Homo sapiens: one gene and its partner. The protein of the gene in region 1 interacts with the protein of each later gene in a pairwise test. Each region holds a gene or a part of one and is shown in the gene's direction. Other genes may lie near its edges. The genes, in order: GRXCR1 and PRDM6.

What was found.
Region 2: the proteins of GRXCR1 (region 1) and PRDM6 interact in binary tests that used the Homo sapiens proteins (3 or more experiments, as listed by UniProt).

What each region holds. Positions count from the first base shown.
Region 1 is NC_000004.12:43,025,070-43,028,895, forward strand, and holds part of GRXCR1 (glutaredoxin domain-containing cysteine-rich protein 1), read left to right. Parts: intron 1-3,826. UniProt on the Homo sapiens protein: May play a role in actin filament architecture in developing stereocilia of sensory cells.
Region 2 is NC_000005.10:123,172,552-123,176,377, forward strand, and holds part of PRDM6 (putative histone-lysine N-methyltransferase PRDM6), read left to right. Parts: intron 1-3,826. UniProt on the Homo sapiens protein: Putative histone methyltransferase that acts as a transcriptional repressor of smooth muscle gene expression.

The sequences.
Region 1 (3,826 bases):
GCATCCTGTTTCTATATTGCATAACTGGGGGTAAACTTACATCTTGAAATTTGAAACTCAAATTTCCTTTGCTACAAAGGAAGTCTATTTCACAATCATTCATAAACTCTGCCATTATCTTTGTCGTTTGTCGTTTTTGTCCTTTGTTAGAGACACAATACATTTCGTGTGCTTTAGTTGAGATGACTGCAATATGGAGCAGACCTATCCAAGACTCAGGGGTGAGGCTGAGATGTACTACTAGGAAAGCAGAGAAGTGTCTGGTTTACTGCTATATTCCCATTGCCTTACACAGTGCCTGGCTAGTGAATACTCAATATATATTTGTGGAATGGAATGAATAAGTAAAAGGTCTCACTCACTGAGTATCTATCTTTTAAAACTCACTCACAGGAATAAATGAACAGAAAGAGGTAAAGTGGAGGGTGATTTCTCATTCTTTTTCTCTTGAGCTCCACTCCAAAGTGACTTGTCTCAACCCAAACCACTATTCAGAGGAGAGGAGACACAGTCTGTAGATTCAGTACTCTGTGTGCTATTCTCAACCAGGTCTGCCTGGATTCTTAATTGCTTGCAGGTCAACGTTTCCGCAGCAGTCAATCTCTTCATTGAAAGTGGAAGTCAGGGCCGGGCGCGGTGGCTCACGCCTGTAATCCCAGCACTTTGGGAGGCCAAGGCGGGCGGATCACCAGGGCAAGAGATCGAGACCATCCTGGCTAACACGGTGAAACCCCGTCTCTACTAAAAATACAAAAAATTAGCCGGGCAGGGTGGTGGGCGCCTGTAGTCCCAGCTACTCGGGAGGCTGAGGCAGGAGAATGGCGTGAACCAGGGAGGCAGAGCTTGCAGTGAGCTGAGATCGTGCCACTGCACTCCAGCCTGGGAAACAGAGCGAAACTCCGTCTCAAAAAAAAAAAAAAAAAGTGGAAGTCAGTATTTTTACTAATAGTTACTAATAGTAATGAAGCCTGTTTTGTTACTAGTTGTAATGTTACTAATAATTAGTAATATTATTAGTAAAGTAGAAGTCTGTTTCATCAACTTCAGTTATTCAGTTATTCCTCCAACTCCAAACTTTGTCCGTGTTCTTTGGGAAATTCCTAGCTCTTTTTCTATCTTGATCTGTGGGCAAAACTGTCTACAGAAGGGTTAGACTTCAGAGCAACACTAATATAAGAGCATCCAATATAACCCAACTGGGTTTTCTTTGTACAGAACCCTCTAAATTAGGACCAGACTTCCAGTATAACAAATTGCTCTTTGAAAGACATGGCTAGGCATGACTAAATTATTTATTCTTATTAGAATAATAAATAGCATAAATTGTGCTGGAAGATGTAGCAAGAATGAGATTCCTGGGTGCTGAGGGGGCACTGGGGAGCTTTAGTGGGTTGCCTCAAGCAAGAATGAGATTCCTGGGTGCTGAGGGGTCACTGGGGAGCTTTAGTGGGTTGCCTGAAGACCCACCCACCTCACCACCACTTTGGCTTTAGTCATAGCGTTTATCCTTTCAACTGCTTTACATTTGGGGATCTCATGTTTAGATAATTTGGGAAAAAACGGATGCAAATAAACATTGAAAACTACTATCATAGAGGGAAGACCATAGATTTTGCTCATAAAGAGACCTCTTCAATATTCCACTTTCTAGTTATAACTTGATAATTACTTTTTAAAAACCAGCTTAGAGGCTGTGTTTCCTCATTTGTAAAACGGTGGTGTCTATCACATCAGGTTGGTGTGAGAAGGGGGCAAAGACTCCTCCACACAAGATATAAGCCATCCCTTTCCTCTCTTACGTTTATGGCTGAAATAGCTAATTTTTCCTGAGAATGGAAGTAGCCCGAGAATCTTTCCAGCACTATTCTCCAAGACAACAGAAATAGCACATGAATTGAAACACATTTACTCTCCCTTTCTTACAGTGGCAAAACCTTAAACCAGAAGGCGAAGTATGGAACAAGTGTTTAAATTGAATGACTCTTAGAAGTGTAGAAAATGGTTGTGTCATGTGACCACAAGCAGTTTAGCTTAAGGTAGCAGTTAATAAAAATCATTTCAATAGGAATTTATTAATAAAATAATGGCTAATAATAACTAACTGTATTGAGTGCCTACTATGTGTCAGGCAATGTGCTGTTCACCTCCCATGAATTAGTTCATTGAATCCTCTCAACAATCCTTTGAATGAAAGAGAGATCTAATCACAGAATTGCAGACTCTGAGGATCCTATTTTAGAATGGCCTTGTTGTATTTGTGATTATTTTTAGAAATAAAAATGTAGCTTTGGTATTTATATATTAAGTTTATTTTAGGAAATTTGTTCTGACAAGGGGATAAATTATGAAGAAACAGTAGACTCTTGGTATTAGTGAATTTAACATTTGATATTTTAGCCTTTGAAAGTAATATTTGTAAGTGATGTTGTAGGCCCATTATGTAAAATAATTTTTAATTGTGTTGAGTTACTATTTTGAATTTTGTGTGCTCAGAGCCTGGTGTCTGAAGTGCCACACATAGACAAGGAGCTCAGAAAGCTGCATAGCACTAACATTTCATTCCAGCTTTGTTGTTCTTTGCTTGTAGTCACAAATATATTTCATGAGAAAACCATATGGCTATTCAAGAATATGGTCATTCACAAGTGTCTTGGGTCATAGCAGGAGTTGATATTCACCTAGTGTGCACTGGTACAGCAGTTGTGGTTATTGAAAATATTGAAATATGTTTGTACTCATTAAGATATTGAAATAATTGGTCCAGGTATGGTGGCTTATGCCTGTAATCCCAGCACTTTGGGAGGCCGAGGTGGGTGGATCACTTGAGTTAGGAGTTTGTGACCAGCCTGACCAACATGGTGAAACCCCATCTCTACTAAAAATACAAAAATTAGCCAGGCGTGGTGACATGCACCTGTAATCCCAGCTTCTTGGGAGGCTGAGGCAGGAGAATCACTTGAACCTGGGAGGAGGAGGTTGCAGTGAGCTGCTGAGGTCGCACCACTGCACTCCAGCCTGGGTAACAGAGTGAGACTCCGTCTCAAAAAAAAAAAAAGAGATGTTGAAATAATTTATACGGTTGGTAAATAGCCATTGCCCAAGATGGATTAATATCTCTTTTCTTCTATGTCAACTCTAACCTATAAATTTTGCCAGATACAATGCAGGATGCCCACTTACATTTAAATATCAGATAAATTATAAATAATTTTCTAGCTTAAGTATGTCTCATACAATATTTAGTACATACTTAAACAAAAATTATTTGTGGTCTATCTGAAATTCAAATTTAACTGAGCGTCCTGTATTTTTATTTGCAAAATCTGACAACTCTACTTTACTAGGAACTCAGATCTATTTACAATCTAGCAGTAATGAGTAAAGGGCTGGACTCAGGGTCCCTGCAGGTCCTTACTGTAGGACCTTGGCCAGCCCAGCATTTATTCTGACTTGATGCACTTGTTGTACAAGTCATTAAATATTTTTAGCATATTTAATGTCATAGCAATAGTGAATGACAAGGATCTATCTACATTATATTCTTTCTAGTATTTGATAAGAACTCCACTACTTAGGAATTTTCTCATATTTAGCTTTTAAAGTACACTATTTTTCCATCATTGGGTTTGTTTTTACTCAAAGTTTTTCTTTTTTCTATTTTAATATTACACAAAATTTAAGTGCAGTGCATCCTTTTTTTAAGTCAATTCTTGCACAAAGAAATGACAAAAATCCATCAACAAAGTGACCAAATTGCTGTACATATTCAATCTATCTTTTTGGAAGAGCTTTAAATCTCTACAGTCTTGACAAAATTAATTGTTTG
Region 2 (3,826 bases), on another chromosome or scaffold:
ATACGTAGAACCTCAAGATATGTCTCTTTTAAGTTTGCAAAGCATTTTAGTAGTCTTTAAAATACAAAAGATGCATTAAAATCTGATTATAAACTTGCTTTTTAAATAGAGTGAATTCAGATGGTTGGATCTATTATTTGCAAAGGTTCATTATAGTCATAATAACTAATTATACCAGGTAAAATAAAATAATAGTTGAAAAATTTCTGGATAGTAGAACTTTAAAAGTTTAGCTTTGAAGATGAGATGAGTTTATGCTGAATGCCATATAAAGCAATGAAACTATTTCATGGTAGGTAGATACTGAAACAGACTGTTTTGTCTGATCTCAGTTACGCTTAGAAAATCATATGTGTGGGGCCGGGCGCAGTGGCTCACGCCTGTAAACCCAGCACTTTGGGAGGCCGAGGCAGGCGGATCACGAGGTCAGGAGATCCAGACCATCCTGGCTAACACGGTGAAACCCTGTCTCTACTAAAAACACAAAAAATTAGCCAGGCATGGTGGCGGGCACCTGTAGTCCCAGCTACTTGGGACGCTGAGGCAGGAGAATGGTGTGAACTCAGGAGGCAGAGCTTGCAGTGAGCCGAGATCGCACCACTGCACTCCAGCCTGGGCGACAGAGTGAGACTCCATCTCAAAAAAAAAAAAAAATTATATGTATGTGTTATGATGTCTGTCCTGTAAAATAATAATGTCATAATTCGTAATATACTTATGTATATTATCAGAAAAAATACCTGAAAAACTAGAAAGCTTACGTATTCAAAATACATTTCAGTGGGAGATTGTTAGGTCTATACTGATTCCAAGCTAATTTAGAGTTACTGGCAAAAATCTAGGCGGCATGAGACTCCTGTCTTATCATGGACCCTGATGGGCTTATTTGATTCAGATGTCCAAGTGTGGAATTGCCAGCCTTTCCAGATGAGGTGAAGTAATGGGCTTGTTATCTGGGAAGGTGCCAGAGTGGGATTAAATTACTGAAGCAGTGGGTTCCTTCCCTGCAGTTTGTTGGTAAAGACTTGAGAGGTGTTCACCATCATTCTTGAATAAGTTAAAATAAAAAATTACTTCAAAAGATCAGTTCCTTTATAAGCAAAGTAATAAAATACAATGTTTCTTAGTAATGATGAGGAAATGCTTGACTTACATCATCACATCTGAGTTGATTGTTGAAGATAAGGGGAAATAGAGGGAGATATCCAGTCACTTGGACCCCCTAATTTCATTCTAGTTACATAATTTGCTTTTAGTATAAAGGGCTGGAATGGCTCATTTCTGTTCCGGAACCCAGTATGCTCTGTTTGTACCAGAAAGTTTGGAGATAAGAGATACTCTCCGTAATTTCTTAACCACATGGGTGAATTGCTAAACGGAAAAAATGTACAGAACTGTAATGGGACATCAAATTTGTTCATGACAGTAGCTACGTTTGGAACCTTTTTATGGTTATTATCCACGTGGATTATTACTGCTGAATACAGGTTGAGTATCCCTTGTCCAAAATTCTTGGGACCAGAAGAGTTTTGGATTTTGGGTTGTTTTGGATTTGGGATGTTTGCATTATACTCACTGGATTAGCATGCCAAATCTGAAAATCTGAAATCTGAAATGCATCATTGAGCATTTCCTTTGAGCATCATGTTGCTGTTCATAACATTTTGGATTTTGGAGCATTTTGGATTTTCATATTTGGGATGCTCAACCTGTATACGTATATTCTTTAGTGATTGATTCCAAAGATCAGCTGGCCTTTAGTCTTTAGCAATATATGCCCATTCAGCCACTTACAGTGAAAAGGCTGGATAGTTAGAATGCATTTCCCTTGCTCAGAAAACTCAAAAGCTTTTATTTTGATAGGAAAATCTTGCTAGAACCAGGTACAAGAAAGGCAAGAAAGGGGGACACAGGAGAGAAAGTCAGAAGGTAAAACAGGTTAGAGTTTCAAACAAGTCCAAATTTGAAACAGGCCCTTGAATCTGAGGTCCAAATGATTTTTTATTCAATGGACTGAATATTTGGCCATGAAACCCCAGATATTTCAACCTCCATCCAAGAGACTTTGTGTCTGTATTCATGAGCTTTTTCATGTGAGATACCATCAAAAGTCTATGCCTTGATATAAAGGAAAGAAATCCGTAGATCCTCAGGGATCCCAGCCTCACCATTTATTTTGTTTTATTTATTTTTTTTAACCACTGTGTTATTCACATTTAACACAGAAAAAAAAAATCTGTCTGACCTGGCAAAGTAGAAATCAGCACTAAAGACAAAAAACACACCCATGAGGGTCCAGGAACCATGGAATTATTATTACTTGATTTTGTTCTGTTAAGCAAAATCAAAAATCTCTTCCTCCTTTTTCCCAGGCTACTGACTTTTTCTTTTCCTGAATAAATTCGAAGAGAAGCAGCTGTTGGAATCTAAATCAACCAACATTTTGTTCAGGAACTTTATAAACATTTGGGGTTTTGCATAAGCTTATTGCCTAGGCCAAAGTAGCTTTTCTTGCTTTTGCTCAAACCAAAAGTGCTTTTGCTCAGCACTCCCATTGGGGGCAGTATGGTGGTGGGGGGTATGCTCCAGAAAGGGGTAAGCAAAGCCTTCAATCACAATGGATTGTTTTCTGACAAGTATGTTCTCTTTTATTTCCTGCAGAAAGTGTCTTTATAATGCTTATTTTTATTTTGCATCCCTTTTCTTTTCCTTTCTCCTTTTTGACTGTTTGTGCCACATGGGGCAAGTCTGCCTTCAGCCTCCTGGGCACACCATCACCTATTCACATTTGTGTTTTAAGTATCATTGTTTGTAAGAGATGTGGTGGGATCAGAGGGTAAAATGACATTAGAAGGGGCTCTCTGATAGGAGGGCCTGGAGAGAATTCATCATCATAATAGTTTCTTAGAATGTATCAGTATTCTTGTGTCCCACTTCTTCCCCATCCCCCAAGTGTGAAGGTTATCTTCTTTCTAGCTTTGATGTTCTTCAGGCTGTTTAGTCTTGCACTTCTGTCACTGTCCTGAAATATTTTTCTCCTTACGTAGAACTGAGTTCTTTTCTCACTCCACCCAGCCAGCAGTGACCTAAGTAATCTCTCTTTGAAGTCTTGAGAGATTTGCACTTGGGCTGGCTGATGTTGAACAAGGAGAGATTGTGGCCCCAACTGAACAAGTTTTGTCCTGGAGGCCATGGAAGAAAAAATTAAAGCAGGATTAATATTTTTAAGCCAAACCATACTTAATTTTGTTAAATGTTTCATCCTTTTCCCATGTATACACCAAACCAATTACAGATTAAAAGCAAATGAATTGCACATTTTACTGGAGTTATCTTTGGCAAAGGAGGTGCCAGTGACCAGGAGTGCCAGGAGATGTGCAAGATTGTCTCTCTGCCTTCTTTCTGCTTAAACATTTACCAGCATTGATATATACCAACTAAATCTACCCAGGTGTTTTCTGTTCTTCAGTTCTTTCTTTCTTAAGGAGCACCTTTCTGTTTTTTCATCAAGCTGGGTATTTCTGTGTCAGAACTAGCCACACAAAGCTATTTACATTTAAATTAATCCAAATTAAGTAAAATAGTACTTCAGTTTCTCAGGCGCACTAGCCACACATGAAGTGTGCAGCAGTTGCATGTGGCTTGTGGCTCCAGTATTGGCTAGCTCAGATACAGAACAGCTCCGTCATTAGACAACACTACTAAAGATCTCAAATGGTAAAAAAAAAAAAACAAAAAAAAAACCATAAGTTACTTGTGGTTGTGAGATACTGTCCTTTTGTGAGGCATACTGTTTGCCTTTGCTTTGAGAAGAGTGAAGTGCTAT